Linked DNA regions of Homo sapiens. The protein of the gene in region 2 interacts with the protein of the main gene of each other region in a pairwise test. Each region holds a gene or a part of one and is shown on either strand. Other genes may lie near its edges.

What was found. Proteins that work in one complex are often made in the same cells at the same time.
Region 1: the proteins of SLC10A1 (region 2) and LRP10 interact in binary tests that used the Homo sapiens proteins (3 or more experiments, as listed by UniProt).

What each region holds. Positions count from the first base shown.
Region 1 is NC_000014.9:22,874,740-22,878,489, reverse strand, and holds part of LRP10 (low-density lipoprotein receptor-related protein 10 isoform 1 precursor), read right to left. Parts: intron 3,436-3,750; coding exon 3,245-3,435; intron 3,160-3,244; coding exon of another isoform or gene 3,136-3,159; coding exon 2,118-3,135; intron 1,802-2,117; coding exon 1,672-1,801; intron 1,551-1,671; coding exon 963-1,550; 3' UTR 1-962. UniProt on the Homo sapiens protein: Probable receptor, which is involved in the internalization of lipophilic molecules and/or signal transduction. May be involved in the uptake of lipoprotein APOE in liver.
Region 2 is NC_000014.9:69,776,639-69,780,388, forward strand, and holds part of SLC10A1 (hepatic sodium/bile acid cotransporter), read right to left. Parts: intron 2,723-3,750; coding exon 2,544-2,722; intron 1,892-2,543; coding exon 1,695-1,891; intron 1-1,694. UniProt on the Homo sapiens protein: As a major transporter of conjugated bile salts from plasma into the hepatocyte, it plays a key role in the enterohepatic circulation of bile salts necessary for the solubilization and absorption of dietary fat and fat-soluble vitamins.

The sequences.
Region 1 (3,750 bases), about 47 Mb from region 2:
GGGTGGAGGGTAGGAGTCATGACTCCTGTGTCCCACCAGGGACAGCTGCTCCTATGATCTGGGCTCAGGGTATGCTCCAAAAATGAGAACCTTCCTGACCGCAGGGCCCAGCTGGCTCCCCTGACTTCTATGCTGGCAGTGAGGAAAGAGGCCCTGGAGTCAGTCATTGCAGAGCTGGGCCCCAGGCATTTGAGTGAAAATGGAGAGGATTGATCCTTAGGGTTCCTAGAATTTTCTTACCTTCTGTGTGGTATAAAAATCAAGAGTGCAGTGGTTGGGAGATGAACAGGAAGAGGGCAGGAGGTAGAGGGCCAAGCAAAGGGCTCCACAGGGAGGAGTGGGATGAGGTGAGCATAGACTGAGATGGGCAGAGGCGGGGCTCAGGCTCGCAGCTAATTTGCAAAATTTTGAGATGTATGATTCCTTTATTTTTGACCTCAACTTACTGAGCAATGCCGTAGCTATGGAATAGAAGCATTTGTTGCACTCTTTTTGTGAGCCAGGCCCTGTAGGAGGGATTGTGGATGGCAAAACCTCAGGTTCTGCCCAAATCCTCCCCTTGGGGGCTGGAGGGTCTCTAGTTAATTGGCATTCCGGTGCTTAAGGCCACTTTTGGGTAGAGGTTTGGCAAGGATGGAGTGTCCAGACCTATGATCCTCTAAGAACTTTACTTTTTAAAAACAGCCACCCAAATGGTGGTGGCGTGGGGAGCAGGTGGTGGTGAAGGGACTGGGGTGTCTGGCCATGGCCACGTACAGAGGAGACTCTGTGAGCCCTCTCCCTGCCTGAGGGACACTTAACTTTATAGCAGCTACATAGGGTCAACGGGAGGCCCACCAAGTCCCTGAAATCCAGGGACAGGGAAGGAAGTGGTGGAGGGGAGGCTGACCCACCTCTAAAAGGTTGTGCCACTATGAGTAGAGCCCCCAGGGGAGAGGCCTCAGTAGAGCCCCCAGGTCCCCTCAGGTAAGCAGTGGCTCATCCTCTGCCTCAGCTACCCACACCCCCGGCTCAGCCAGTGGCACCAGTAGCACATCGTCCTCATCTTCCAGGGCCAGGACTGCTGTGTGGGGTCCAGGGGGGCTCCGGGTTGGTCCTGGGGGCCCCAGGCTGGGCAACAGGCGGCCTCGCAGGGCCTGCACCACTCCAGACAATAGTGATGGCTCTAGGGGCAGTGAGGGCAGTGGCCCTGGGGCTTCAGGGACAGTAGTGGGGGCTGGAGACGTGCTAGCAGATGGGAGGGGAGCCTTGATGGGCAGTGGGGGTGCCTGCTCCCCATCTTGCCCACCCACTGCCCCGCCCTCACGGGCTGGACCTGTGCCACCATCTAGGGCCTCAAGGGGAGCAGCAGAAGGTGTGACCTGGGATCTGGCCTCAGAGGCCCGAGCCGGGGTGTTGGTTCGAGGGAGCAAGCCCCAGCGGCGGAGACGGCGTACCAGGCGTCGCATCAAGCGGCCCCGCTGACGACGGCGGGCACCTGGGCCACCTCCTGGAGTCATATCCTGGCGTAAGATCTGTAGCAGAGAACGCAGGTTGCCCAGCACTGAGTTCTGCAAGGAAATGAGGAGGCCTCAGAGTCAGAGGGCCAAAGGCTGAATGAAGGAGGGTACAGGGGCGGGGCCACAGCAGAACTGGGACCAGGAGGTGCTAGGGTTGTGGGGAGTGACTTACATCATTAGGATTCTCTGTAGGAAAGTCTTCTACAGGTGGGATGGCACCCTGGGCAATGAGCTGCCCGTAGGAAGGGGGTGCCTGCTGCTGCACAATCTCAGCCTCCATCCGGGAGAGGGGGGCAAAGATGCTAGAAGGAATGAGGACTGCTCAGTCACTGGTAGTTCTCGGCCAGAGTAGACCACCTCAGCCTGGACAGTCCTCCCACTTCCACACCCGGGCCAGGCCAGCTGGAGCTGTGCCATGGCTTTCCCAAAGGTCATCTGAGGTCCCTCCTCCCTTGAAACTGCTTTCAGGATCTGGACCTGTCCCTTACAGGACACAACTGACAAGCTGATCATGGGAGCCTCTCCCCAAGGTGGGCACTTTCGTGGTCTCCTGTAGCTGCACAGCCCAGCCTCACCCTCAGGGTCTACTCTTCTACTGCCAGCCCCACTCCCACTGACCTGTACTCCTGGGTGCGAATGGCATAGAGCTTGCAGGTGCAGCCCAGGGCGATGACCAGGAGCAGGCCGCACACTAGGCTGCCAATGACTGCAGCTGTAATGACCTTGCGGGGCAGAACATAGGAGCAGTCCCACTCATCACTGCCGTCCGCACAGTCTGGCTGCCCATCGCACACCCACGTCTCATACACGCACTTCTCGTCCCGGCATCGGAAATTGCCAGGCTGGCAATGCCGACAGCGTCTCTCATCTGCTCCATCAGCACAGAAAGTCTGGTAGTTGCAGCGGTCAGCAGGCAGGTAGCAGGCTGTGGCACCAGAGGTGCCAGCAGCCCCACAGGGGAAGTGTCCAGGTGGGCAGCCTGGGCAGTCCTCCTCATCTGTGCCGTCAGCACAGTCCCATGAGCCGTCACAGCGCTGTGCCTCACTGTAGCAGCGCTCACCTAGGCCTTCGCCAGCTCCCAGGCCAGAGCCTAAGCCACAGGGTCTGTCCCAAGGCAAGCAATAGCCCCGCACATGGTAGGTGGCATTGAAGCCACGACCATTGCTCCAAGCAACTGTGTGGTAGGACACAACAGCCTGGCCAGACAGTGTCTCCACAGTGACAGCCTTGCCATTGCTGAAGTGGGTGAGACTACGCAGTAGTCGGGAGCTCTCAGGGGGCCCAGGGCCGTCATACACATGCACTGCATCTCCAAAGCCCAAGTCCAGGGCTGTGAAGCGCACGGCCAGCCGCCGGCCATCATGGGGGTCCAGCAGCCAATGGCAGGACTGGGGGTGGGAGACTGAGGCTAGGTGTGTATATCCAGGAGAGGAGAAGACCCCATAGAAGTCCTCCAAGGTGACATTGCAAGGCAGGGAGGGGACGGGTCTTGGGGTCAGGCCAGGGAAGGGGTCTGAGCTGCAACCTGCTTCATCAGAGCCATCGCCACAGGCATCAACCCCATCACAGCGCTGGACAGCAGATACACAGCGGTGGTTCAGGCACTGAAACTCTTCCTGCAGGCACATCAGCCAATCTGCAGAGGCACCATGGAGAGGGGCTGTGAAGCACCAGAACCCTCAGGATCCTCCCCTTCTGCCTGGGGCTTTCACTGCCTGCTCCTCAGACATCCCTGTCCAGCCTACCTTGGCTGTAGGAGAGCAGGAAGCCCTGGCCCATGGGTGCTCTGGCCCCAGCATAGCTGTAAGTGATGGTGACGTTGCCCCCGGGCAGCTGCAGAGGGCTGGGAGGTGCCTCACACAGGGAGATCAGTGGCTGGAGAGGGGAGCGTAGGGTTAAGCGCTCTGAGCCACAGGCCAGGTGTAGCTTCTGGAACCTATGGGAGTAGAGGAGAGCAGGACATGAGATACTCTTGACTGCTGCTGGCTTTCTCCTCCCCTGGTGCCACCAGGCCCCTTGTGTCCCAGGAAGCATAAACATCTGCTTATCCATGATCTAAATGGCCAAATGAAAACTCAGTTAGCCTATTTATTTATTTATTTAGAGACAGAGTTTCACTCTTGTCACCCAGGCTGGAGTGCAATGGTGTGATCTTGGATCACTGCAACCTCCACCTCTTGGGTTCAAGTGAGTCTCCTGCCTCAGCCTCCCAAGTAGCTAGGATTACAGGTGCCCGCCACCACACCTGGCT
Region 2 (3,750 bases):
TAACTTCGTTATACAGTAAAACAACAGGAGATGAGTTTATGTATGCAAGGTCTGTGTTGCATTCAGGGAATGAGGAGGCAGGCAGGAAAGATCTTCGAGAAAGTCTAACCAAGAGAGTTTCCAGTTCTTCCCTCCAACCCCCAATTGATCTACCTCTTCTTGTCCGTGGTGTAGGCGGTGATGCAAATTTGAAGATAGCTTTGATTCCTGCACCTTTCTATACAGATGGGAGAGTTCTCTATACAGAGTTGTTCTCCCATCAGGTGCAGGAATGAAAAGTATAAAAACTTGACAGATTCCTCCCCCCTGAGAATAGCTTCTTGGGGCCATTAGGTCCAAAGAAATACGTTGCTTTGATTTAGTGTTTCCACTGGGGTCTTCTGAGATACACTGTGAGGAAAGTTCTTTTCAAGTCTTGAGAGCTAAAGATCCATAGAGTATTGTCCTTTGAGGTCACTTCAGGTCTTTCTGGTACTAAAACCTCAAATCTGGGAATTTGGTTGGTCTAGAAACTTCTGTGCACTTTTTGTAAGAGGGCAGCAAATCTCTTGCGTTCCTCTCAGATAAGCATCAGAGTAGATTCTTTCTCACAACTCTACTGTAGCTTTGAACCAAAGCTTCTAAAATGGTTCTAGTGTATGGTCAGCCTGTACTTGTTTCGTGTTGGCTGCTTGGCAACCTAATTACATCTTAGCTAATTGCAAAGGGAGAGAGAATCGGCATTTGCTTGCTAGTATAATGTAACAAATTCCAATAGGGAAAGTTGTGTATTTCTCCTAGGGTGTAAATCACAGTCCCTAGGGTCTAGAAAGGTTTTGAAGGGGACTTCAATTCATGGACATGAAGGGACAGTTGAAGGATTTGGGTAGGTACTTAGGAAGAATATACTAATGTTGAGAGTTATAATGAAATGTGTTATAAAGTGGGTTTGAATGTCCTGTTTTTTTTTTTTTTTTTTTTTTTTTTTAAAATTGGTGTTAAAGTGCACTTTGAGGAAGGCACTCTGTTCTCTGGTCTGTCTTGAGGTTCAATTTTATTTTGAAAGGTAATACTCTGAGCATTTTAGAGAAGAGATGCTATGTTAACCCCATAGTGATCAGAGTAAAGTATAAATCATATTAAGTTTATTGTGGAGGTAGTTACTGTTTAACAACCGTATGCTTAAGTTTCCTTTACTGCGTAACTAGAGTTGAGGAATCTTTTTTTTTTTTCTTTATTCTGGGTTATATTAGGGTGCATTGCTTTCATATGTTTTTCCTCATACGGAGGTGCCAGTGGTGCTGTGGCTCTGATCTGGTTCCAGGAAATGAGAACCTAGTCCTGAGAAATGGAAACTTCCCCAACTCTTGCGAATAGAGGCCTTTCACACAACTAATAACCTCAGTTGTCCAAGGCAGTTTTGTCCTATGATGTCTCCCCACTGAGACAAAGCAGCCCAAATTGCTTCAGTTTTATGAGGTAAACTGCATCTGCAATTTCATTCTCCCAGCTAGAAGGAAGAAATGGAGTGCAGTTGATGGAAGTAGTCTTGGATCTTTAATGCTTCTTGGGTGCTTCTTGGGGCTACCTGGTTCTTAGTGACTTGATAAGAGTTAAAGCCCTATCCAAAAAGTCCCTGCTAGAAACTTGCTTGTTGGCAGGCTCAGGTCTAATATTGGAGCAGAACTTGAAGTGGGGATAATTTCAGTACTCACCCTTGGGAGTCTTGAATTTCTCATAGCACCAAAATATGGCAATGAGGAGAAGCCCTTCTCCAAGCTGGAAAATCATGTAGAGGAGGGGAAAGAAGAAAAGTGGTCCAATGACTTCAGGTGGAAAGGCCACATTGAGGATGGTGGAACAGAGTTGGACATTTTGGCATCCAGTCTCCATGCTGACAGTGCGTCTGCACCTGTGCCGGTGAAGAAAACCCCACATACACTCAGAGGGAACTGGAGGGAGCAACTTTGTCCCAGTGCTGCTACCAAAGAGTTTCGCAGCAGATGGAATCTAGACCCTGGACAGGGGTACTTTGCTATTGCTGCTGGTGTTTGGATACCTTTGGTGTCTGGATTTTTAACCCGTTCAATACCTTCATTCAATTTTTTTCAAGTCTAAAGTCTCTTGTCCAGTTAGTGCATCTGAACATATTGCCAGGAAAGTGTCTTGCCCAGATTTCAGGTTCCTAGCTTCTTATTCGTTTCCTGAAAGACTAGGACAAGAATGAAGCCCATGGGACAGTGGGACCTAAAATAATACCTATCTCCAGGCATGCAGTGGCTCACACCTGTAATCCTAGCACTTTGGAAGGCTGAGGCAGGTGGATCACTTGAGCTCATTAGTTCAAAACTAGCCTGGGCAACATGGTAAAACCCTGTCTCCAGAAAAGTTAAATCAGCTGGTCATGGTGGCTTGTGCCTATAGTCCCAGTTACTTGGGGGGCTGAGGCAGGAGGATCAGTTAAACCCTGGAGGTTGAGGCTGCAGTGAGCTGAGAATGTGCTACTCCCCTCCAGCCTGGGCAACAGAGTGAGACCCTTTCTTAAAAAAAAAAAAAATACCTACCGTCCATTGAGGCAGAAGAGAGCAGAGAGAACATAACCCAGCAGAAAGCCAATAAAAGGCATCAGGGAGGAGGTGGCAATCAAGAGTGGTGTCATGGCAAACATGATGCTCTTCCCCACATTGATGGCAGAGAGAACTGTGACGGCCACACTGCACAAGAGAATGATGATCATCCCTCCCTGGGAATGAAGACAAGAAAAGGCAATTAGAAGAGTTGGGGATAGAGAGGAACAGAGGTGGGGAAGCACAGGTAGAAATTGGAGGTGGGAAACATTGCAATAAAACACTGGAAGTGGAAAGGAATATGAAAGACCTTTATCTTCTTTTTGGATTCCTTTCTTTAAATTTTTTTAAAATTATTAACATTAGAGACAGGGTCTTACTATGTTGCCCAGGCTGGTCTTACTCCTGGACTCTTAGCGGTCCTCCTGCCTTGGCCTTCCAAAGTGCTGGGATTACAGGTGTGAGCCACTGCACCCAGCCCATCTTTTTAGATTTCGTATCAGTAGCTAGGAAGCTTGGGGACAGCTGATTAACACTTTGATTATTACAAACTCAGCCAAGCACAGTTACTGCTTTTGACACATCTCTGGATAGCAGACTTTCAGTGAAGTGTTACGTGAGGCTATTCAGGACTCCTGCAAAATGGATATTATTTAAAAGTCAAGTATTTTTGGAACTTATATACACATTCCTACAATACTGTCATTGTTCCACATACTTTGAAACTCATGAGAACTTGTCATACATATTTGTCTCAAATACCTTGATTACAGATAGGGATTTTATCCATTTTAGGATCAATTCTGGAAATTGCCAAGAGTCATTTGAAACAAAGCTGGTAAACAAGGTGGATGATCAAGCCCGGAAATACGGTTTTAAACCCAAAATGATGTCTAATAATAAGGGGACAAACCTACTTTCTTGAGTGACCTGCAAATTGAATATGAAGGAAGTTCCCAAAAGAACTTTCAGAAATATCTTGGGTGATAACAACATCATTGGAAACTATGCAGGTCTACTCTGAATGAAATTATAGGGTTTTTCATTGTGCAACATAGGATGCAACCTTTCAAAGTGCATGTGCACTCCATGCACTTTGTACTTTCCAGTGTGCATTTTAGAGAATTGCGTCCTCCAAAATGATAAACAGGTATGTGTAAATTTAAGACTGTCCCTTTTATCTCCTGAGTAAAGAAATACTTAA